Homo sapiens: one gene and its partners. The protein of the gene in region 2 purifies or fractionates together with the protein of the main gene of each other region. This does not show direct contact. Each region holds a gene or a part of one and is shown on either strand. Other genes may lie near its edges. The genes, in order: PICALM, HIP1R, GAK and PPM1B.

The links.
Region 1: the proteins of HIP1R (region 2) and PICALM fractionate together in Homo sapiens (co-fractionation; 3 studies listed by BioGRID and IntAct, with this or other methods). This does not show direct contact.
Region 3: the proteins of HIP1R (region 2) and GAK purify together in Homo sapiens (affinity purification with mass spectrometry; 3 studies listed by BioGRID and IntAct, with this or other methods). This does not show direct contact.
Region 4: the proteins of HIP1R (region 2) and PPM1B purify together in Homo sapiens (affinity purification with mass spectrometry; 2 studies listed by BioGRID and IntAct, with this or other methods). This does not show direct contact.

Annotation. Positions count from the first base shown.
Region 1 is NC_000011.10:86,066,077-86,073,240, forward strand, and holds the start of PICALM (phosphatidylinositol-binding clathrin assembly protein), read right to left. Parts: upstream 3,009-7,164; 5' UTR 2,705-3,008; coding exon 2,575-2,704; intron 1-2,574. UniProt on the Homo sapiens protein: Cytoplasmic adapter protein that plays a critical role in clathrin-mediated endocytosis which is important in processes such as internalization of cell receptors, synaptic transmission or removal of apoptotic cells.
Region 2 is NC_000012.12:122,852,454-122,859,487, reverse strand, and holds part of HIP1R (huntingtin-interacting protein 1-related protein), read right to left. Parts: intron 5,446-7,034; coding exon 5,305-5,445; intron 4,584-5,304; coding exon 4,526-4,583; intron 4,436-4,525; coding exon 4,360-4,435; intron 4,224-4,359; coding exon 4,083-4,223; intron 3,938-4,082; coding exon 3,876-3,937; intron 3,658-3,875; coding exon 3,585-3,657; intron 3,509-3,584; coding exon 3,325-3,508; intron 3,233-3,324; coding exon 3,144-3,232; intron 3,057-3,143; coding exon 2,940-3,056; intron 2,864-2,939; coding exon 2,762-2,863; intron 2,468-2,761; coding exon 2,273-2,467; coding exon of another isoform or gene 2,240-2,272; exon of another isoform or gene 1,471-2,239; intron 1,387-1,470; coding exon 1,239-1,386; intron 1,140-1,238; coding exon 1,053-1,139; intron 651-1,052; coding exon 543-650; intron 428-542; coding exon 291-427; intron 63-290; coding exon 1-62. UniProt on the Homo sapiens protein: Component of clathrin-coated pits and vesicles, that may link the endocytic machinery to the actin cytoskeleton. Binds 3-phosphoinositides (via ENTH domain).
Region 3 is NC_000004.12:848,772-852,345, forward strand, and holds the end of GAK (cyclin-G-associated kinase), read right to left. Parts: intron 3,204-3,574; coding exon 2,979-3,203; coding exon of another isoform or gene 2,776-2,978; exon of another isoform or gene 2,538-2,775; intron 2,314-2,537; coding exon 2,165-2,313; intron 1,298-2,164; coding exon 1,121-1,297; intron 1,004-1,120; coding exon 902-1,003; 3' UTR 506-901; downstream 1-505. UniProt on the Homo sapiens protein: Associates with cyclin G and CDK5. Seems to act as an auxilin homolog that is involved in the uncoating of clathrin-coated vesicles by Hsc70 in non-neuronal cells. Expression oscillates slightly during the cell cycle, peaking at G1.
Region 4 is NC_000002.12:44,213,843-44,220,876, reverse strand, and holds part of PPM1B (protein phosphatase 1B), read right to left. Parts: intron 2,911-7,034; coding exon 2,799-2,910; intron 2,398-2,798; coding exon 2,340-2,397; intron 1-2,339.

The DNA of each region.
Region 1 (7,164 bases), on a different chromosome or scaffold from region 2:
AGACAAAAAATTACTTGAAATGACAGGTTTCTGTATTAAAGCCTAAAGTTCATGATGTCAACACCATGAACTGTCCGTAGAAGACTTTTTAATTTTCTCAAAGCATGTTAGTGTGTGCAAGGAAGGTATTTGTTTAGTAAACCACTCACTGGTCAGACTTTACCTAAGATAAAGGTATTTTATTAGTGAGAACTGATTACAGGACATTTTAATCAACAATGTAGGGAAAATAGTATCCCTGTATTTTAAAACCTCATTGAAAAGAAACAGAAGCACATTAACGACACATATATTTTTAAATCAAATACTACCAGGTATATTCAAGTTCCAAAAACGTGGGAGCTTGTAAACACAGAAGTGGTAGAGAAAAAGAACGACAAATGCAAGATTATCCTCCAAACCTAATCCCAGTTACCATCTATCTGCAGTAGTGGCTATAACAAGAGAAATAGCTAATAACATTTATGAAACAACATGCAAATAGCACTCTTCTAACCCTACCTATTTTCTCCTCTTTTTGACAATGCTTTAAAAGAACCACTGCTACATTTGAAATAAGACACAAACCTTTACAAAAAAAACTTTTAAAAGCCTTATCGATTCTTATTTTGAATGAGGAAAGAGGAAAATAGTTCACACAGTCACAACTAGTTTCTTCATACTCCCATACAAAAAAAAAAAACAAAAAAAAACCAAAAGCAACTAACAAAAGAATTAACACAGTGTCAGGACAAACTGTAAGATTTGGTAGGGCAAACCAAGTAGTATTTGAAGAGCCGTAAATAGCAGAAACGTCTACTACACGTATCAGATAATCAAAAAATCACATATGGCTTTACGATGCATTTTAAAAAGTTTTCTGTTCATAAGAGTGTCACCATTTAAACATATTCTCCATTCTCTAAGACAAGCAAGGACTGAGAGTTTAAAAGCAGCCTGCATGCATATCTGAAAGAATCAAGCACTAATGCTTTTTTATTTAAAACTTTTTTCCACAGTGGAGGAACAATCACAAAGAATAATAGGCTTCTGTGTAGCAAAAACTTGTTCTAACAGCATTCATGAGCACAGTAACTTGGAAGAATCTACATTTCGTACATTTTTTTTAAAGTGCAAACTTTACGGCCAAAGTCCAAATGAGAAATCAAAACAGGCTTCCAGACAGTGAATTATCTTTCAGGGCATGCTCACTCTTGCTTCAAACAGTAAAACAAAGTAACTTTCATGTATGATGAAAGTCAGTCAGACTAATGTGTCCAGTCATTTAAAAAGGGAACTTACTTATCGTGACTATTGCCCTATTTTTCCCTGAAAAGTTTCAGGTCTAAGCTCCATTGGCTTGAGTGATCCAATGAGCTTTGTACCCTGGGGTAAAAGAGCGCAAAGAAAAAGGAGGGTATTACAGGTGACTTCCAGGTTAGAAAAAAGTTACGAGGAGTTAGCTCTACTAATTGTATCTACGTTAGCGAATGGACGAATACTATGTCGTGTAAGAGAAGCTAAAGCTAGTTCCTCAAAAGGTAACTGGCATAATTAAAACATCCAAACTCAAGCATCATCAAACATCATTTTGCCAATTTTTTTAAGGGATGTATGTTATTTGTAAGTAAATTTATTAATCCATTTGGAATTCCAACAGTCTACGCTTAACACTCAAGCTTCTGAATTCAAGCCGCCAGAATTAACAGTTCCAGGAACTGATAAGAGTATCAGCAAAATGCCTTTTTCCATATCCCCATGTGAAAAGCTGGGGGGCAGAGCTGACAGTCACAAACTCACCCCAGTCAAAAGTATGGACAACACAACGATTAAATTCCACCAGAGGCAAATAAAAATCCCAACTTTCCAGAAAGCTTTCCCTACACCAAATTGAATCCTTTTACTTTCACTCCCACAAAGAAGGTAATCTGAAATAAAAGTCGGGTAACTGGGTATGGTATTTAAAATGAGTCGAAGAAACTACACTGAAGCTACTATAGAGGCGATGAAAAGGTAACCCAAAAGCAGGAGGGAAGGTGGAACAGAAAGCCAGGAAGGGATGGGCGAAGCAGCTAGTGGAGCAAAGGAAGTGGGGGATCCCTTCCAGGGAGGCAGCCCGGAGGGATAACAAGGATCTGGATGCAAGGAACCAGGCGTTTACTGAAACCCGAAGGAGGCTGATGAAGAAACAATGGGGCTTGGAGACGCTCAGACGAGGGCGACGAGGCGGCACCGGACGGGTGGGAAGGAAGAGCAGAAGGCTGCAGTGGAGACGGGTAGGGGGTGAGAAGCCAGGTGGGGAAGCAAGTTGGTTGGGTATGATGGGGTGTGGTAGCGCACCGGGCAGGGAGACGAGGGTCCCCTAGGAATAGGGAGGGGAGTGGCTTGTCAGATTTTGAGACGGGGAGCGGAGGCCGTGAAGGCAGGTGTGATGGAAGCAAAAGAACACAGCTCAACGGGCACAGGACCGGCCGTGCCAGAGAAGACGCAGGGAGGGAAGAGGCAGTAGAAGGGTGAAAGACAAGAGAGAGAGAGAAGGACGCGCGCGGGTCGCGCGGGCGCCGGGGAGCGGGGGCCGCGGTCGGCTTCACTCACAGTCCAGGTGCTTTTTCTTGGGCCCCATGATCTCGTGGGTCGTGGCCTTGCATACTGTCTTGGATACGGCAGAGCCGGTGACACTGTGCTGGGCGGCAGTGATTCGGTCCGTCAGGCTCTGGCCGGACATCTCTGCAGCTCCTCCACCACCCCACCCGCTCAGCAGCCGGCGGGGACTGGGACCCCCAAGAGCCGGAGGGTCCCCACCCCCCACCGCACCCCCTACCCCCACCGGCTCCTTCCCCGCCTGCCGGCCTGGGGCGCGGTTCGGGGCCGCGCGCTGCCACCAGTCCAGAGAGAACCGGCTCGTGTCACCCGCGGAGTCGGACAAGATGTCGGGCACTCCCTTGCCCCCGCCTCAGTTCAGCCCACCCCTTCCCGGGTCAGCTGGAGCCGGGCAGGGTAAGAGGAACAGGCAGCTGCAGGAAAATGGCGGCGCCAGGCTCCTCCTCGGAGCTTTCCGGGCTGCCCCGGGTCACGTGACTCGGACACCGCCCCTCCTCCCTTCTCCCGCCCCTTTCCCCTTCCCTTTCCTCTTCGACGCCCGCCCTCCCTCGCTCAGCGAGGGAAGAGCTGGGCGGCGCCCGCGCGTTACGTGATGGAACTCGCCAGGCGGGCGCAACAGGAGGCCCGCCCGAGGGGAGTGCACAGCCGGCGCATCACGTGACTCTCCCTGCCAACAGGTCGCCTGAGGCTCGGCCCGCGGGGTCACAGACGCCGGGCGGGGCGGGGCGGGAGAGGAATGGCGAGGGCGGTGTGCTGGCGGGGGTGGGGCGGGGCGGCAGGCTTCTCCCCTTATCCCCCCACCTCAAGTGTGTCCTCGTGTCTGTGGTTGAAACCAACAGCTTGACAAAGGAGGTGCAGCTGCCTTCACAGCTTCCCCTGAAGTGGGGGGTATTAGGCCTCTGGCTCCCCGAGCTTTCCCAGCAGAGTCAAGAATGTATTTCAAGACGCCTCCCAAAGCCGCCCTCCTGGCTTAAAGGAGAAGGTTCCAAACGGCCTATTTTCTGAACCTTCCAGCAGGCCTCTCTCTACCATGGAACTATTGAAGCTCTCCTTATTTACTTACCCCAGAAAGGTTTTTTCCCCCCTTTCCTTGAGAGGCTTGGAAATGTCACCTGGTTTTGTTTATCTCTACTCCGAAAACCCGACACGTTGCTGCCATTCTAAATTTAGATACTAGCTGGCCGGTATTCATTCTCTAGGGTGTGGAATAGGACAGGAAACACATAGCTTCACTGGAATTTGAAAAGGGAAGTAGTAGGATGATGTCAACAGCGATTAGCTTGACCCTACATGGCTGACTGCTGTGGTGATTAAAGGTCCAGACCATAGAAGGAAGTGAGAGGGGCGGTAAATGGAGAAGTCCCATTCAAACAGTCCAGACATCACTGCCTGCCATCTCCCCTGGTTTAGTCTTTCTTACCTTTGGCCTCTTTTCTCTTATTGGGTGAGCCAGATTTCCATGGAAAGACGTTGACACTGCCCTGTGGACATTTTAAAAGAAGTATTACATCCTGAAATACTATTCAATGAGACCCAGACCATACATTAACAAAGCCTTTTATATGTTATTAGAGCCTCTACATTCAACCCAGGGTTAGGGATAAGTTGAAAAATATGTGAGTGCTAAGTTACCATGATAGTCACATGTAATCTTGCTAGTTTCAAATGAAATGCTAACATTCTCAGAAAGTCTGTGTACACCATCTGCCAGCCAAATCCAAAATACTGTGCTTCAATCTGGTGACTCTCAAAGGATGCAAAGCTGATAGATATTTAACATTTTATGTATCATATCAGGAATTTTGTGGTCTCCCATTTTCCCCACGCCCCCTCACCCCTCTTTTTTCCCCACTATGGCTGGTGAAATTCTGCAGCAACATGCTCTTGCCAAGAACACACAAGTTTTTAATCCCAGCAGGCTTCATCTTTGTCAAGCCAGCCTCCAATTTCACAAAACTATAATGAATTCCTTCAGTGTACTGCAATCCATCTGTGGTTTGGTGCCCAGTTTGCTGCCCCACGTCCACTGGGCAGTGGAATTACCAAATTCTCAAGACATGTTATCAGCCATCATTGCTACTGGTCTATGGGTTCCACTGTATAAGTTACTGATTGGCCTGAGCCTCTGCATTGGTAAACCCCAATCTGAGGTCAACACTAACATGGTCTAGCTATCAACAGCTGAATATTTTATCCTTAGGGAAAATGCCAGTCATTCCTAAGTACATAACAGGAAAGTATTACACTATTACTTTTACCAAAGAGGTTCTTTCAGACCACTTTTGTGACAATAATTGTTGACATGTTTACCCTATTAACAAACAAGCTGCTGTTAGAAATATTTTATTTTTTTCCAAGTATACATAGTAGAATTTCTAACTATGTAAATAATCAGTAATCATTGAAGAGGTTTATGTGTGGTTGTGAACTGAAATATATGGAGAAATTTAAAAGAAGATGGGGAATTGTTCTAAGGGTAGACATTACTGACCTATGTTGTCTTATATGCTTAAGTTTTCTGTGTCAGTTTCCTTGGTCTATTCAGGAAATATCTCTACCTGAAGTTCCACAGATGCCAACTCACCATGGCCAATACTGAACTTCTCTTGCCCTTGCCCAGCATCCTACATCTTTAATCCATACTGTTCCCTATATCCGTTAATGGCCTCACCACATGTCCAGAAGCTCCGCTCAGAAAGCTGTGATTCTGAGTTCTCCTTCTGTCTTATTTCCCTCATCAAGCCTAATCTACTTTTATCTCTCAAACACATCCCATCTCTAACCCCACTTCTGTTGCCTTAGTTCCAGCCTTTATGATCTCTGTTATACTAGACTGTTTTAGTAACTTCTTAGCTGATTCTCTGTCTTTTATACCCTGACTCTCCAATTCAGATCCTTCTGAAACCAAAATGTGATTGTCTTTTCTTTGCATTAAAATCTTCCAGTAACTCCCCCATCGCTACCCTAAAGGATGAAATTAAGAACTCTCAACCTGGCATACATGGTTCTTCATGATCTGGCCTCATTTTAGAAGTTTCTAAGTATGTAAATAATCAGTGACCATTGTAGAGGTTTATGTGTAATTGTGAAATGAAATACATGGACCAATTTAGAAGAAGATGGGGAATTAGAACTAAGAATAGGCATTACTGACCTACTTTATCTTATATACTTAAGTTTTCTCTGTGTCAGTTTCTTCAGTCTATTTAAGAAATATCTTACCTGAAGTTCCACATGTGCCAACTCACATGGCCACCTAAACCTGTTGAGCCTTGTCTCTTCCCATTCCTCTAAATTCCCCTACCTACCTACTACTTGTTGAGCCTCATCTCTTCTGATTCCTTTAAATGCACTCCAGACAGTATCACACTACTTGACATACTTGGATGTCATGCTGTTTCACATACCAATAAGCAGTTACTGATTTCCTTTTGTTACTCATATATCCTTCTGTTCTCTAATTATTATTGTGATTGACTAATTGCACTAACATGGGGGTGCAGAGATACATCCATGCTAGTATTATGGTTGATGCAAGGTAGATACACAGTAGATGGTGATTGAACGAATGAATGAGAACGCTTTGAAATCACGCATTCGGACACACCATCACTCCAAACCTCTCATTTGATAAAATCTGCCCACTTTTTCACACATTTAGCATGTCTACTGGGCATGGAGGCATAAGCCTATAGTCATAGCTACTTGGGAGGCTGAAGCAGGAGGATCCCTTGAGCCCAGGAGTTTAAGCCTGCAGTGAATTATGATCCTACCACCGCATTCCAGCCTGGATGACAGAGCAAGACACTGTTTCTAAAAATAAATAAAGCATGTCCATCCCATAATTATCTGGTTGGAGCATCATCCTTATTCAGTACCTTGTTAATTAATTTACTCTTTCAAAAAATATGTGTTGAACTGTGTGTCAGGCATAAAGGTTCTAAGTGCCAAACACTATTTACAGTGAACCCATCAGTCCTTTGGGAACTAGTTAGTTCTCAACTTGAAGGCCTCTTTGCTTTGATTGTAAAGGAGCAGACCAAAAACAGAAGGAAAAAACTTGAATAACACATTTCCTAGGTATTTCCTAGGCTCTTCCAACTAAAAGGTATGTTGTAGAGAGGCAGGGAGTGTTCGGAGAAGGAGCAGGTTTTTTTTATTGCCTCCTATGTGCTAAAAACACTACATTTTAAAAATGTAATGCTCATAACAATAATTTCAAAAAGTATCATGTCCAAGTATCGTGCCCATCCAATACAAGAAAACAGACAAGTCTTGGAAATTTTTTTTTTTTTTTTTTTGAGGCAGTCTTGCTCTCTTGCCCAGGCTAAAGTGCAGTGGCATGATCTCGGCTCACTGCAAGCTCCACCTCCTGGGTTCACGCCATTCTCCTGCCTCAGCCTCCTGAGTAGCTGGGACTACAGGCGCCTGCCACCACGCCTGGCTAATTTTTTGTACTTTTAGTAGAGACGGGGTTTCACTGTGTTAGCCAGGATGGTCTCGATCTCCTGTCCTTGTGATGCGCCCACCTCAGCCTCCCAAAGTGCTGGGATTACAGGCGTGAGCCATCGTGCCCGGCCAAGT
Region 2 (7,034 bases):
TCCTTGTCGACCACGGCCCCCAGCTCCTCCTGCCGCACATCTAGGCTCTTGGGTTTCAGTTCCTGGTGAGGATGGGAGTCAGACAGGGGTAGCCTCCGTCCCCCCCCGTCCCACGGGCAGCCTGGGAAAGAGGTTGGGGACCACAGGGATCGAGGAGGGTGCATGGTCCCCACCCTGTGTCCTGAGGCTGCAGGCTCCACGCACAAACACCTGTTCAGCCAACCCAGAGGTGGGTGCAGAGGTCAGAGGCAGGCCCAAGCCTCCCAAACCCACACTCAGCTGTGCCTCACCTGGCCCAGCTGAAGGATGCCCTGCAGGGGTGTCCGCACCAGGCTGGCCTGCATGTGCCGCAGAGCCTGCTGGTCCTGCAGCTGCCCCATGAGCTCCAGAGCCCGGGCCCCGCACTCCCTGCAGGTGTCTATGAGGCCTGGGGTGAGAAAGGACCGTGAGTGGAGCCCCCCCCACCGACAGGCTCCATAAGGACCCCCAGGGGAGACAAGCCAGTGAGGTGGACAGAACCTGCCATCCCAGGACCCACTTACGGTCGGCAGGGTCGGTGGGAGCCAGGTGCGAGGTGGCACCGCCATTGATGATGGTATCCGCAGCCAGGTGGGAGAAGCGGGTCAGAGCTGCCACCAGGGCGGAGGCGTCTGTGCGGGTGGGTGGGGCCAAGGTTGGGGGAGGATGACACTGAGACACTAGCACTGGGACCACCGTCGGTGGCCAGCTATCCCAGGAGGAGGAGGAAGAGGAAAGGAGGGCTCGGCAAGACAACGTCCAGGAGGCAGTGGGAACCACACCACAGTGTGTGTGGCCCCGGGCCCTTCAGTGCTCTGCCACCTGCAGACATATGGTGGCCCAGGCCCCAGAGGCAAAAGCCTATTTGTCCACAGGGCAGGGGTGGGTTCCTGGGAAGGAGCAGGCAGGGGGCATCTGCTTGGCTTCCCAGAGAGGTCCCTGCTGTCTGTAAACCTCCCAAAAGGCAAGAGGTGGCCATGGGCGCTGGAACTGGGACACAGCCCCCGCCTCCGCCCTGCCCTGGCTACACTCACCTGCCAAGGAGGTCAGGTACTGGGCGTGGCCCTCCTCCAGGGTGCTCACGGCATCCAAGGCCTCCTGGGCCCTGCTCACCAGGTAGTCTGCAAGCACGAGGAGAACTGAGGCCCCTGCCACCCGCTGCTCAGGGCTGGGGATGGGAAGGAGGCAGGGGAGCGGCTGAGTGTGGCCCCACTGTCTACCTGGGGAGCTGGTACAGCGCAGGTGCAGGGGGTCGTCCAGCTTGCTCACGGCATCCTGCAGGATGCCCGCGGCCTCGGCAGCAGCGCCCCGCAACACTGCGAACTGCTCGTCCAGCAGCCTCTGCCGCAGCCCCTGCTCCTGAGACTCCTGGCAATGGGGGTGAAGAGGACAGGTTAGAGATCCTCCCCAAGGCCAAGGATGTGCCCCAGCCCTGGAATGACCCATGGGCCACCAGTTGGAGCCCAGCTGAGACCCTCACTGGTCAGGGGGGTGGAGATTTCTAGAAAGAGGCTTCCCACACAGTGCACAGCTCAAGAATAAAAAGATAACCCAATTAAAACGTGAGCTCAAGGTCCTAAAAGACATTTCTCCAAAGATACACAAATGGCCAGGTAGCTCATGAAAAGATATGTAGCACCCTTTGCTATCAGGGAAACACAAATCAAGACCGTGAGAAACCACTCCACACCCACTAGGATGGCTAAAATAAAAAGAAGACAATAATAAGCATTGGCAAGGATGTGGAGAAACTGGAACATTCATGCGTTGCTGGTGGGAGTGTAAAATGGTGCAGCCACTTTGGAAAACAGTCTGGTAGTTTCTCAACAGGGTAACAGAGGTGAGACCCAGCAGTTCTACTGTGTTCCACACACATCAGCTATCTATCCAAGATAAGTGATGGCAGATGTTTACACAGAAACTTGTGCTCAAAGGCCCACAGCAGCACTATTTACAACAGCCAGAAAGTTGCAACAAACCCAATGTCCACCAAGTGATGAACAGATAAACACAATGTGGTCTGTCCACACGGCAGAGTACGACTCAGCCATAAAAGGAATGAGGTAATGACACAGGCTATGATGTGGTGACCCTTGACAACGTGATGCTGAGTGAAGAAGCCGGACACAAAAGGATGCATCGTGTATGATCCCCTTTACATGAAATCTCTAGAACAGGCAGATCACGGAGACAGATCGATGGTTGCCAGACGGCAGTGAACTCAGTGGTGCTGCTGCATCTGGGGAGGCCATACCCTCTCTGCCAGCCGGCCCTGCAACTCGCCCTGCTCCTGGGAGCTGCGCTGCTGCTCCCGGCTCAGCGCCGCCTCTGTCTCGCGCACCAGGCTCTGCGCCGCCAGCAGGTCTGCCTCCCGCTGCCGCACAGCTCCACTCAGAGCATCCTTCTCCGCACTCAGCGTGTCCAGCCGTGAGCTCAGCTCCGACTTGCTCTGTGGACAGACATGGACACCAGGCATGTGAACAGAGCTCCCAGGCCCCACCCACCCTGCCCCCACGCTTATAAACTGGGCCCTGGGGGTTAGTGATCACTTCCATTAGACTCAGGGCTCCCTGAGGACCAGCGGTAGGTCCTGTCTCCCATGTAGCCCCTGGGTCTGGGTCAGGGCTGCATCCCAGGATCACCGAGTGGCACCCAGGTGGGGCCTGTTCACGGGAAAGAGGACCTGACTTCCACCCAGGACTGGCCCCAGAACCCCACCTCCAGTCATCAAAGCCAGATGCACCTGCTCTGTGTGGCTCAGGGCCTCCTGCGCGCGGGCCAGCTCTCCGGCCTTGGCCTCCAGCTCCCTCTTGAGCTTCTCCAGCTGGTCGCTCTTCTCCTCTAGCTGGGACAGGACAGCGTGTCACTGGGGCAGTGGGCTGGGGATGCCGGGGCAGGGCCCTGTGCCACAAGGGACATACCTTCAACTCCGACTCCCGCTTCACCTGCTCCACCTGGAAGGCCAGCTGCTCCTTCACCCGCGCCACCTCCTCCTGGCTTTGCTGCGTCACCGTCAGCTGCTTGGCTGTGTCCGCGTTCTGCATGGGCAGGGGAAGGGCTCATGCTCTGCTGCCATCCCCGAGAGGCCCTGCCACCGGCTGGGATGGAGGATGGGCTGCACCTACCTTTCTGAGCAGCTCCGCGTGCACATGGACGAGCTCACTGTGCTTTTCCTTCAGCTTGTTGTAGCGCGCCTCCGTGGCACTGGCCTTCCCTGGGGGCGAGAGGAGGGGCAGTGATGCCCCGTGTGGGGTGGCAGGGGCTGGGGACACACCCTTGGACCCCTGTGGCCAAGGCCCCACGTACTCTCAGCCTCCTCACGCAGGCCCTGGCTCCGCTCGCCCTCCAGCTGGGCAGCCCTCAGCTGGGCCAGCTCGTGGCGGAGCTGCTCATTATCCACCAGGGCCTTCTGCTTCTGCTTCCGCTGCTCCTCCAGCTCACCCTCCAGTGCATTCACCTGGCTCTTCAGCTGCGCGATGTACCGCTGGGCCTGCGGGAGGAGGTGTGACGTGGGGCCCTGCCTGGGCCGTGAGGGGCCCTGGCCCCCACCCATCCCCACCCCGCACCTCCAGCTTGATCTTCTCCAGTTCAGAGCGGAGCATTTCCACCTCTCTCTTCAAGCTCTCAATCTGGAGGTCCCTGGGGACAGAGGTCCTGGGGTTCAAGTTAAGTCAACCAGAACAGTCAACAGACCCAGCACAGGAACCTGTCTCCTCCTCAGTGGCCACTCAGGATTTGGGCACCTCACGGGTTCATGTTCCCCACCTATGGCCTTTCCAGACAGAACTGTCCAGAGCACAGCTCAGCTGAGCCCGTTTCCAACCACCCCCAGCCCAGTCGGCTCCTCCAGCCCTCACCTGTCGTCCTTCACAGACCCATTGGGGGGTCCAAACGTCTGATCGAAGAGGTCAGCCACCACCTGCCACAGCAAAGCATGGTGACCCCACTCACCTGTGCCCTCCAGGCCGGGCAGTGGGCAAAGGGAGGGCTGGCCACCCGACACTCCCGTTGGCCTCATGCTGCAGCTGGAGGACTGGGGGACACGGGCTGGGCAGGGGGCTCACCACTGGCTCCCCCGCGGGGGGCCCTGTGCTGATCTCAATGAGATTCTCCGGCTCCTCATCTTCCGGGGCCTCCTCGGGGATCACCACCACCGGCTTGATGTGCTCAGCCAGGGCTGAGGCCCGCAGGAAGTTAGGGGGTCCCTGCAGGGGCGGCAGGTGGGACCTGCTCAGCTGTCCCCTAAGCAAGCCCTCCTTCCGCCATCTCCATAGCCTGTGTGGGGCCCAGCCAGGTGCCTGGGGTCCTCAAAGGGCCTCGGGGCCCTCTTGGGGGTGGTACCTCGGGCAGCCGGGGGATCTGGATGAGCCGCTTGAAGTACAGCATGTCGGAGGCTCTGCGGAAGAAGTTCCTGAGGCTGCAGAGATGGTGGGAAGTTCGGGTTCAGGAAGGGGCCACGGAGCCTCTCCCCCACCGGCCTCAATCCTGTCCCTGTCCCAGGCAGTACCTGTGAAACTGCTCGTGGAACCGGTCCCTGTGGCCTTGCAGGGTGTCCGCAGGGAGACCTGGAGGGTGGCACAAGTGTAACAGGACTTCTCTGCACACTGCTCAGGGGCTCACCTGCCCTGCCTTGTTCCTCCGTATGCTACAAACTCACAGATCAGAGATCACCTGAGACCGGGCCAGGCCCGCTCTCCCATCGGGATGGGGAGACCTGTGGGAGACGCTGTGGGAGGGCTCAGTTCAGACTGAGCTAGAGAAGGAAACAGCGAATGGAAAGGAAGGCGCTGCGGCCACATCTCACCTAACCCACACCTGGCTTCGGGAGGCACTAGCAAGCCGCTTTCACCAAACACGTTGGTCCCAGGCTGACACTAACACAGTGGTTCTCAAAGTGCGGTCGAGGGACGAGACCCTTTCAAGGGGTTGGTTAGATCAAAACTCTCCTAACACCCCAGACACCTTTTGCCTTTTTGCGCTTGCACCCCCAGGGTGCCTGGCGGGAGATTCCTGGGAGCAGCTGGGGCCTCCGTCTTGGCCGAGCCAGGCATTTAGTCGTAAAAATGAAAACCAAGCCACTCACTAAGTTTTTTGCTTGGTAAAGTAGTGGGTTTTTTTTTTTTTTTTTTCATAAAATATATGTTATTTCTATTAATGGGCAGTGGGTTTATTACTGCCATTTTTAAATGAATAAACCTCTAATTTTTCGATTTTCCTTTTTGACAGTGAATGTCTAAGCCATATAAACACAGCCTTCCGGGCCAGGGGTTGCCCTGGGCCACTCACAAGAGTGTAGCTTGAACAGGAGCTTGACCGTGTAGTGGTAGAGGTGGCTGCAGTCCTGGATGACCTGGATGAGGGGGGCCAGGCGGCACTGGCCTGAGGACATCTGGGATACGGCGATGGCCGTGTTGAGCTGTCGGAAAACTGTGCAAAAGGGGCAGGAGGAAGAACGTGAGCCCTTGGGAGCTGGGCAACCTGTCCAAGGTGGTCCAACTGTGAAGCAGGGCCCTAAGCCAGCTCCCACACACCAGTGTGCCCCCTGCCTCCAAGACGGGAGCCTCATGTGCTGGTGGCTGCCCCAGGTCAAGACCAGATGCTCCCATGAAGGAGGTCAACGGCAACAACAAGGTCAGGGCAAAGGAGCTCCCAGCCCAGCTCAGCAAGGGCTTCCAGAGACCTCCACCTGGGAGCCCAGGACGAGGTGCCCGACTGACAAGGGTGACGGATAGCTCCATGCCCACGGGCCTCAAACCCACGCTGAATGTTAGAGCAGGAAGGAGGCTCACGATGGAGCACCCCAAATGCCTAACTTTACAGATGTGGGAACAGGCAGGGCTTCTGCCAAGTAACACGGCACTAGGGTCACAGCTTGGCTCTGCACACCCCAAGTGACCCTGAAACCTCGCTTGCCCCCAGGGCCCATCTCCCCTGCCCCTGACACCCCCAGGGCCCGTCTCCCCTGCCCCTGACACCCCCAGGGCCCGTCTCCCCTGCCCCTGACACCCCCAGGGCCCGTCTCCCCTGCCCCTGACACCCCCAGGGCCCGTCTCCCCTGCCCCTGACACCCCCAGGGCCCGTCTCCCCTGCCCCTGACACCCCCAGGGCCCGTCTCCCCTGCCCCTGACACCCCCAGGGCCCGTCTCCCCTGCCCCTGACACCCCCAGGGCCCGTCTCCCCTGCCCCTGACACCCCCAGGGCCCGTCTCCCCTGCCCCTGACACCCCCAGGGCCCGTCTCCCCTGCCCCTGACAATCGGGCCTTGTATCAGAACTACCAAGTGGGAGGGACAAAGGACAAACATGAGGCTGCCTCCTCCTTGGCTGGCAGCTTCTCTGGGGCAGAGAGAATGACAAAGAGCAGGCAGCTGGCCAGCACGGGAGAGCGGCCAGACAGCCCCCGCTGCACAGACCTGTGCCCTGGCCCCTCAGGTCCTGCTCCTGCCTTGCCTGTGATGGGACCACTTGCAAATCTCTGCAGTGACAGGAGAGAGCCTGGGGGGGAGGGGCAAGAAGGAAGACACAAAGTGCCGCCCCTTGCCTTTTTAAAAAAGTAATCTCTAATTACATGTCATGCTAAGTATGTTTTCCTTGCAAAAAATTACAGCACACATAAAGTACTGCTTGGATCTTCAACACGTATGTCCATGCTGTTCGGCAATCTGCTTGATTTCACACAGTAGAATGTTTTCTAGATCTTCCCGGCCATCCCAGATTCGACACATCTCTCTTCCCACCACCCTCCGTTCTCTGCTCTGCACAGACAGCGAGACGCAGCCTCTGCTGAGGCATGTTTAGGACGTTTGTGTTTCTTTGCTGTTACAGGTCCTGAGGCAGGGAAGCCCCTGTACCTGTCACCTCTGCAGATCTGGGAATTTCTCCAGCAGATGCTGGTACACCCCATTTGTGCTTCATCAACACACCAGCGTCACCAGGTGGGAAGCGTGCCTGTGAGTGTTCTCCACTTCCCTCGTGGGGCCACTGCCTGCCCACACTGGCCTTCTCCCATGCCAGGGGT
Region 3 (3,574 bases), on a different chromosome or scaffold from region 2:
GTGCAGTCATTATTCTCTGAAAACAGGAAGAGCCTGGCGGTGAGTTCAGGGCTATGATTCAGGGCCTCCTCGAGTCTGCTGTGGGGTGGGGGCTCACCATGGTCACCTTCTCCTTCCAGGGGCCCCTGGTCCTCCACCAGCCCGACAGCCCGGAGGCCACCTTGGCCCTGCGGGGATGGCACAGGGGCAGTGTGGAGCCCACCCTTGCTCCTAGGTCCAGGGCCCAGGGGCAGGGGCCAAGTGGAGAGGAGAGAGGAGTCCCGGGGCCGAGGGGAGGAAGGGGGTCTGGGGACTGCAGGGGCCCCCGCCCTTGGCCTTGCCCTGGCTGGGCTCTATGGCCCCCTGAAGAGCTGCCCAGAGCCGCTGCAGCCCCGGGACCCGCTTCTCCTCTCCACTCGGCCCCTGCAACAATCCAACCACGGCAAGGTTGCTGAGGAAGCACAGCCTTGTGCCCCAGCTGGTGAACGGCACCTGGGCGAGTGGATCCACACTGGAGACACAGCAGTCATCGGAAAATAGTTTAATTCTGTACAGACAACCACGGGACTGATTACAAAGTGCGGTGCAAACACCAGGGCCCATGAGCGCCAGCAGCGTGGCCCACCACGTGCCGGGGCTCCAGAGGCCACGCCCGAAACACCAAATAAATCACAGACGTGACAATTGCGGGAGGAGCATGAATCAGCTGTTCCTTCGGGAGGAGAAAAAGGAAACAACAATCAGAGGCTTTGGAATGCTTTCTCTTCATGTGCCTGGAACGCTGGGCGGGCGGTGACCCGGGGCTCGGAGCCCCACCCTGGCCACACCTGCTGTCGCCCACGGGGTCCTCACGGTGGGGACCCAGGTCCCACGACGGCTCCCAACCTGTGGAGCTGTGTGCGCAGCCACCACCACTGCGGCCTCAGAAGAGGGGCCGGGAGCCCTGGTTCTCAAACTCCGACCAGGCGTCATTCAGCTCCATGAAGATCATCTTGGCGTGCTGCTCGTACGGCTGCCCCGCAGCCTATGGGTGACAGGCGGTGTAAGCGCCTCTTATAAGCATGCGGGGGCGGGCGGGGCAGGACCCCCCCCCCGCCCCGCCCCTGAAGGCCTCAAGCGGCCGCCTGGCAGCTCTGCTCACCTTGTCGGGGTGCACAGCCAGCACCGCGCGGCGATAGTGCTTCTTCACTTGCTCCGGAGCCACCAGGTCGGCCATGCCCACGGGCGTCCAGCGGCTCTCCCCGTCCCACAGCACTGTGTGCAGCGTGGACAGCAGGGCCCGGATGTTCCGCTCCTTGCCCTCAATCCAGTCCAGGAGCTGCGGGAGACACGGAGCTTGCCGAGCCCTGGGCACCTGCCTGCCCTCCTCCTCTGCACCGCGGAAACTGAGGCACGACGCTGAGGAAGTGCCTGGTCACGTGGGGTGGGCTCAGCCCGGCTCACAGACACTGTCCCACTGCACGCCCTGCCCTCAACTATATAGAGCCCACTCCGGACGACACAGGGCCAGGTGGTCTTCATGTTTCAGGGCCTGGGGCCAGAGGGACCCTCGTCTCAGCCAGATGTTCACCGAGGACACAAACCCTGGTTCTGGTGGTGCAACCCCTTGGCCCATCCCAGGCCCCAGACTCCGAGGGAGAAGGGGATGGTCCCTGGTGCCTGTGAAAGGACCCCAAGGTCACAGGCGCATGTGGCCTGCAGAGCTGGGCATCGGCCAAGCCACAGAGCAGGGCGTGTCTCAGGGCCGGCACAGTGACAGCCTGACCGCTGCATCCTCACCCCCCAGTGAGCGTCCTGGGTTGGGAGGCTCAGTACCCAGAGCAGCCCCCAAGAGACGCCTGCCCTCAACAGTCTCTGCAAACACCCCGGGGCACTCACTCCTGTAACGCCCGCCCACCCCACCCCCACCAGCGCTGAGCCATCTGGGCACGTGGGGAGCAGCACAGCCTGGGGCCTGACTCTGCCCTGCCCCCCTGGCCTCAGGCCACCCTGTCCTTGAGGGCTGCCAGGCCCATCGGCAGTGACAGGTCCCTGTCTGGAGACGCCGGCTCCATGTGGTACAGCAGATGCTCCAGGGGTGAAAGGTTGCTGTCTGGAGACGCCGGCTCCATAAGGCACAGCAGATGCTCCAGGGGCCATGGGTTGAGGCCTCTGGGCTCCCAGGAAGAGCTGCCCACCCACCCACCTTCAGCTTGAGTGGGTCCGTGTCTTTAGCCAGGTCCTGCTTCCTCATCTCTGCAATGGTCTTTGGCCCTTTCTTGTCAGACCTGGAGGAGAAGCCTTGATTGGACAACAGATCTTCAAAGTCGTTCTCAGAGACTTTTGGCTTTTGAGCTAGAAAAGAACAGAAACTTTTTTTTGTTTGAGACAGGGTCTCCACTCTGTCACCCAGGCCAGAGTGCAATGGCGTGATCTCAGCTCTCTGCAGCCTTTGCCTCCCGGCCTCAAGCGATCCTCTTGCCTCAGCCTCCCAAGTAGCTGGGACCACAGGCATGCGCCACCATGCCTGGCTAATTTTTACATTTTTTGTAGAGAGGAGGTATCACTGTTGCCCAAGCTGGTCTTGAACTCCTGGGCTCCAGCGATCTGTCCGCCTCAGCCTCCCAAAGTGCTGGGATTATAGGCGTGAGCCACAAAGCCCAGTTAAGAACAGAAACTTTCTGCAGAGACACACAGGCCCAATTCCACCTGCTGCCCCCGGGAACAGGGCTACCATCCTGATGCCTCCAGAGTAAAGAAGAGGGAAGACAAGACAGGGTTGCAAAGGCCATTTGTTAAAAACAGGTCAAGAAGGTGTCACTGGAACAAGAGGGACCCAGAGGCCTGACCCAGAGAGAGACCAGTGAACACACATCGGAAACCGCGTCGTTCTCTGAGTGGCTTGGCCGTGCCTGTCCCAGGACTGGGCTCTGAGATGAAGAAAACAACATAGGTTCTACCTTTAGCCAATTCAGGGAGGTCTCTGCAAACTCCACAGCAACAGAGAGTGGGGGACTCACCAAAGCTGGGTGCGCGGACCCCCCGCTCCTCCCGCGCCCCGATCACACTGAAGTTCGAGGCATAGTTAGGCCTTGGCTGTGTGCAGGCTTTGGGGGGCGGCTTGGCCTGAGGGGGCCATGAGGCGCCCTGGGCTGGCGGCCGACTTGTCTGCCAGGAGCTGCTGCCTTTGGGCGTGGTGGCCGTTTTGGGAATGAAGCCCCCAGGAGGGAATCCAGCTGGTGAGCCTGTGGAGATGGAGATCGGAAACTCGGCATCTGGTTGTCCATGAGGGGCAACTACTGTTTCTATAACGCAGAGCACCACGTATATTGGAAAACATGCGCTTGCAAAATAGAACACCGATCACTCGAGGCCGTCCAGAGGTGCCGGCTCCACCCACACGTGTGAAGGTCTCCAGGGGCTGGAGCACAGGCCAGGTGCTGGGGCGACGGGAACACTCTGGATGGAGGGCAGACACCAGGACAGGGCAGCTGTGGAGGCAGCACCCCACCCCCAGGAGCCAAGGCAGACCCAGGGCTTGTCCACGGGGGTTGGGGCAGTGTCCCCACGTCACCCCCAGGAGCCAAGGCAGACCCGGGGCTTGTCCACGGGGGTT
Region 4 (7,034 bases), on a different chromosome or scaffold from region 2:
TGAAAGGTCATCATCCTCATGTCATTTCTACCATTCAAATCATTCTTCAAATACTATCTTTTCTCTAAGAAGCTGACTTTCCCCCTGCTTAAGCAGCTGAACTTTTACAGCAATCACTGTCCAAGTCACATGGCAATGGTCACATTCTGGATTTTGTCATTTATTTGTTACCAAGCTATACGAAATATTTTGATCATTTAAGGTGTGTTTATAACTACAGTGTAAGCTGCACTAGACACACAGGTGGGGTCACGTCTTACGTTTTCTAGTCTTCTCCCTCTGTGAATCCACTATACAACACACTGTCAGTGTTTGATCTGCTGATGTTGATAGAACATTTATGTATAAAGGTAATTAAGTACATATATCCCATTTCTATAGCCAAATAATAATCTATTTAAGGTAAGGTTTATATATTGAGCATTTCCCCCCAGTTTCATAGTTCCGTTGCCTATTTATTCCCTGTTTATGTAGCTACTATGTGTAATCATTTTTTCTTTTTAAAAAATTTAAAAGTTATCCTTGGTATATGTTAAACAGAAAACCTTGTTTGGAGTAAAAATAGACTATGAAGGACCCCAAAATCCAGCAAGGTATATATATATATATATATGTATTTTTAAAGATTACACATGAGGGTTGACACTTTGAAACACCTGAGGAAATGGGAGTACTTCTATGGCTAATAATGAATCAATAACTGTCTTCTGAGGGCTTATTTCCTCTAATCAAGGTAGTGGATGCCCTGAAGAATCTATAATCTAGCTGAAGAGTTAAGATTCTCTTCTCTCAACCTTCCAAATTACCACCATCCTTTTAGTCATATGTCAACATCCTATACTCATTTCTTTGAGGGTTCTCTGATGGATCACATAAAATATTTGGATTTTTAAATTAATTTTCTCAGCTTTGGGTCAATTTTTTTTTTTTTTTGAGACGGAGTTTCGCTCTTGTTGCCCAGGGTGGAGTGCAATGGCATGATCTCGGCTCACCACAACCTCCGCCTCCCGGGTTCAAGCGATTCTCCTGCCTCAGCCTCCCGAGTAGCTGGGATTACAGACATGCGCCACCATGCCCAGTTAATATCGTATGTTTAGTAGAGACGGGGTTTCTCCATGTTGGTCAGGCTGGTCTCGAACTCCCAACCTCAGGTGATCCGCCCGCCTCGGCCTCCCAAACTGCTGGGATTACAGGCATGAGCCACCGTGCCCGGCCTTGGGTACAATTCTTAATACTCTGAGGAACCTGCCACAAAAAAAGACTCAGAATCACTGCTCTAGACCAAGATATAAATTATAATTAGCAATATATAGCATCACTTTTATATGACTCACTAAAATTATATTAATTATTAAATTTTCCTTTTTGCCAGGATAACTTTTACTGTTAAGGAAAAGAAATCATATTATATTGCTGTGCAACAATGAATCCTAGCAAATAATGCAATTGAGATGACATATGATTTCTAGCCAATGGATACTCTCTCTCTCAATCTGCCAAGAGGAGCTGGAGACTGGAGGTGGACTCTTCCTCCCAATCAGTTTCATTTCTGTTTGGTTCCCTTAAAGCTTTGAAGCATATATATTAAAAATTAAATAATTTATTTTTAGACATAAAAACTTGAAAACCCAAGAGAAAAATACTTATTTGAACTAACTTGGATTTAAAAAAAAAAAAAGGACACTTCTGTCTCCTGGTAATAGTACTAAAACAAAACAAAACAATATAGAGGGGCAGCTGGCAGCTCACTGACATTTCGAAGAAAAGCAAAATAAAAGGTAAGGGCATAGAGTCTTGCTCTGATGAAGTACAGCAAGGTACAACAGAAATGGTTATCTCAGCTCAACACTCATGTACCCATAATACAACAATAATATTAGAAAAAAACTATCCTCGGGTATTCCAAGTGGGCATACAGGGGTACTGAAAGGTCTAGTTATTAAAATAACAACTCACTCACTATCACTAACTTCTGGTGATGGCAGCAGCCTGCTGGAGGAGAAATTGAGATATTTAAAAGAGCATTCTTGCCTCAAAATTAAGGTTTAAAGGAGAAGAAGGAAAAGCAGACATATAGAGAAGAAATAAAGACAGCCCAAACAAAAAAGGTCATTTGATGCCCAGAAAGTGACAACAAAACTATCTACAAAACAAAATTTTATCTCTACCTTCATTTCAATACATTTTCTTAAACTTTAACTGACACTTTAAAATGAAAAGCAGTAGTAATTTACTACAGACTATAATTTATTATAGACTTCGTTAATGTGAATGTATTCATATTTAGTATTTATATTGTGAAATTACTTCAAATGCTTATGAAATAAAATAAAACTTACCCCATCACTTTCTCTATGTGGATTCAGTCTACTATAAACAGCTTCAATAACATTACGCCTAAAAAAAAAAAACATGCTTTAGTTTTATTAAATTACACAGAATTTTAAGCTTGTGAATATCTCAATATTTCATCCTGACCACACTAAAAAAGTAACTGGTACACTCTATACTTGTCAAGAACATACCTTCTACACTTTACTCTCAGAATCTGATTTTGCACAATCCATTTGTACTCCTTAGCAAGGAAAGAAGGACCTTCATACTCAAAGAGTATGATAGATAATTCCTTTTAAAAAATCGTTTTTGGTTGAAGTTTTAAGAGTTCTTCTCTAGTATAAGAAACACTAACCCATTTCACCTCTAGATAATTGATGTACTTCTGATTTAAGTTTTTTTACCCCAAATTATTTAATTACTAATTATGAACGAACTCAAAATTAGCTTTTTGTTCTACTTACTTGCCAGCAAGACCTCCCCCAGGAGGCAAATTTGGGATATTTTCTGCAGACAAGATGCGCATGACATGGGCAAGATCAGGCATTCCTTCCTCGCCAGACTTCTCCATAATCTCTGTAGGTTTTTTAAAAAAAGTTCCTAAATTAATGTGATAAGCCAGTACTCACCAAGAAGTGAAACAAGAGATACTATTTGGTAGTACCTATTTTAAAATATATTAAAAAAAATTACCATCAACACACAAAAAATTTTTAAGAAGTAATACAAAAAGCTACTTATTGACTGAAACATTGCTATGCAGGGGGAAAAAAGAAAAAACAGTTATTTGCATATGTATGTTCATTCCAGCATTATTCATAAAAAGCAAAAACTGGAACAAACTAAATGTTCACCAACAAGAGGACAGTTAAAAACTTTGGTGTAGCCATTGAGTGAAATGGTTTATAATCACTAAAAATTACGAAATAGGTGTCTTGATGAATACAGTAACAGCTATATGGAAAAATACTTCTGATCTAATATTAAGTAAAAACAATATAAAAGTTATGAATGCCATTACTAAAGGATAATAAAAGTTTAGCTAGATAAGAATTATAAGAAAAAGGGGAGAAATTAAAAATCATTTTTACAAGTTGATACTTACCTGAAATAGTTACATTCTACAGCTTTTTTTTTTTTTTTGAGACGGAGTTTCACTCTTGTTGCCCAGGCTGGAGTGCAATGGCGTGATCTTGGCTCACTGCAACCTCTGCCTCCTGGGTTCAAGCAATTCTCCTGCCTCAGCCTCCCGAGTAGCTGGGATTACAGGCATGTGCTACCATGCCTGGCTAATTTTGTATTTTTAGTAGAGATGGGGTTTCTCCATGTTGGTCAGGCTGATCTCAAACTCCCAACCTCAGGTGATCCACCCACCTCGGCCTCCCAAAGTGCTGGGATTACAGGCATGAGCCACCACACCCAGCCCAGGCCTTACTTTCAAAACAACTGTTTACCATGCCTCACAAGACCCTTACGTTGACTTCCACTACTCTTTCAACTCTGCCCGCCTCCCTCATCTCCAAAGGATCCATTCAAAGACTTCTACTTCTAGATCTTCACATACTCTTTTCGTTGGTTTGGGAACACTTTTCACTCTAATCCAACCCCTCTGTATGGTGAATGTCCCTTTTTTTTTTTTTGAGACACTGGAGTGCAGTGGCACTATCTCAGCTCACTGCAACCTCTGACTCCCTGGTTCAAGCGATTCTCCTGCCTCAGCCTCCCAAGTAGCTGGGATTACAGGCATGTGCCACCACACCCAGCTAATTTTTGTATTTTAGTAGAGATGGGGTTTCACCATGTTGGCCAGGCTGGTCTTGAATTCCTGACCTCGTGATCCACCCACCTCAGCCTCTCAAAATGCTGGGATTAGAGGCCTGAGCCACCACGCCCAGCTATGAATGCCTATTTTCATCCTTGAGGTTTCAATTTTATATGTCACATTCTCAAATCCTTCTCTGACCTAAGTCTGAGTAGGTACACTGCAATACACTCCCATATGCATGACATGTACTGTATACCATAATGCTATATACTCCCACATACACGATGTTTATTGGGTCATAGACTGCAAGCTTCATGAAAGCAGGACTGTAAGTTTTCTACCTTAAATCTGTGTCTTATAGTATAAGGCTTCTCAACATCAACAACACCGACATTTTACACCAGACAATTTTTTTGTTGTGGGGGCTGTCCTGTGTGCTGTGGAATATTAAGCAGCATCCCTGGCCTCCATTCACTAGATGCCAGTGGCACCCCCTCAGCTATGACACCAAAAATGTCACCAGACATTTTTACACCCCTCTACTCTAGTCCAATTTACCACTACCATGCATTAATGCATAATTTCTAATCGGTATTTTGGCTTCTCTTGTCCCTTTTATACAATCTCTTCTCCATACAGCAACTAAGAGAGATCCTTTGGAAAAAAGAACAAATCACTCTTGTACTCAAAATCTTCCAATGAATTCCCACAAGTCAAAGTCCAAAGTCCTCACATGATATGCCTCCTACAAACCTCTTAATTTTCCTCTAGTTTTCTACTGGCTTATTCTAACCCAGCTGCACTCACTAAGAACATTCCCTCCTAGTCTTTGCTGTTGTCATTGCCTGGAATGTTCTTCCCTCAGATATTCTCTCTCCAAGCACGGCTGCTCAAACATCCTTCCTCACAGAGACATTTCTAACCAATATTCCTTGTTGCTCTCTACTTACTCTATTTTATTTCTCTATTAAAAAAAAATAGGTTTTTACTAGAATACAAATTCTATGAGATTTCTTTTTCTGCTATATCCTCAGTGACACATGTTCAATAAACACTGAGTAAACCTGTATGTAGAAAGCAATCATTAAATATATAATTCATCAATTCAGGTGAACTACTATTCCCTGTTTATTTTAATATTATTCCTTTCCCACCTGACCAGTCATCATTAAAAGCATACACACAGATTTACCAAGTACACCAGAATGTATTTACCACAAAATTTAATGTCATATTACATGATTTAAAACCCCAGAAGAAACATAATGCTCCTGAAGAACACTGCTTTACAAATAAAAAGTTACTTTTTTTTTTTTCTTAAAGACATGTTCTTACTCTGTGGCCCAGGCTGGAGTGCAGTGGTGCCATCATAGCTCACTGTAACACCAAACTCCTGGACTCAAGTGATCCTCCTGCTTCAGTCTTCAAGTAGCTGGAACTACAGGTGTGCACCACCATGCTCAGCTAATCTTTAAAACTTTTTTGTAGCTCTATGATGCCGAGGCTGGTCTTGAACTCCTAGTCTCAAGCAATCCTTCTGCCTCGGCATCCCAAGAATTATAGGTGTAAGCTACTGTGAAGTTACATTTTAAGTACCAACTTAAATTGATTTGTAGTGGCTGCCTAGCTAACAATTTTGTCTCCTGATTAATAATAACTATTTGCTACAGGCCCTAGAGATCATATTACATATTTGTTATCTCTCCTATATAATATATACTTTAGAAAGTTACTAACTATGCAGAAGAAAATTAATATTAAATTATTAACTCATGTTAAACTGAATTGACCACACCTTTAAGAAATTAAAATGTGGCTATTACAGAAGTTAAGAGTTCATATAAAGTTACAGTTTGCTGAGGACTTACGTGCTAGGCACCATAATAGGTGCTTAACAAACATAATTCTCATTTATTTTGACAAAAACTCTTTGCTTGGACCAAACCTTCAGCAAGACTCTTGAGTTCTTTCTGACTAGGAGAACTTTAGGCTCCCTCTCTGTCCTTGTAGAAACCAGGCTGAATGAGAATCCTGCTCAGTCAGTTTACTGAAAACCCCCACACACTTGATATAGGACCACTCTGGATATTTTAGCCTGGCCTGCCATGCTATCAAGTCAGTTTAGCCAGAAACCCCTTATGTTGATGCTTCCTCTTAGTAATAATTTTCCATCCACTGACACTCCCTTCAAGCACTCAGCTCCTTAGTTATAAATTCCACTTATCTTTATGGGACCCCAAGTTGAGTTTAATTTCTTTCTGCCACTGCAAGATTCTATCATAGTGGTCCCTATATCTACTGCCATGCCCCCCCCACCCCCGAAAAAATATCTGCCTTACCATCTTTAACAAGTGTCATCAATAAGCTTTTTTTGTAACAATTTATTTAAGAAAAAAAAAAACTCTATGGGGTCGGGCGCAGTGGCTCACGCCTGTAATCCCAGCACTTTGGGAGGCCGAGGCGGGCAGATCACGAGGTCACGAGATTGAGCTAATACAGTGAAACCCCATCTCTACTAAAAATACAAAAAATTAGCCAGGCATGGTGGCGGGCATCTGTAGTCCCAGCTACTTCGGAGGCTGAGGCAGAAGAATGGTGTGAACCCGGGCAGCTAAGCTTGCAGTGAGCCGAGATCGCGCCACTGCATTCCAGCCTGGGTGACAGTGCGAGACTCTGTCTCAAAAAACAAAAAACTCTATGGTTGGTGTTTTTATCTTTAGTTTCCAATAAAGAAACTGGTGCCTTGAGGGGTTAAGCAAGTTGGATAAGTTCACATAACAGCCAGCTGACCAAACTAGAGAGCTCTTCCTAAAATAAAAACTACCCAGTTTCTTTATGAATGAGGAAGAAGGAAACTAAGAGAATTCCTCCCACCTTCTGATAAACTATAGTCAGCAATCTGCAACCCCAATATACTACAATTTATCATTAAATA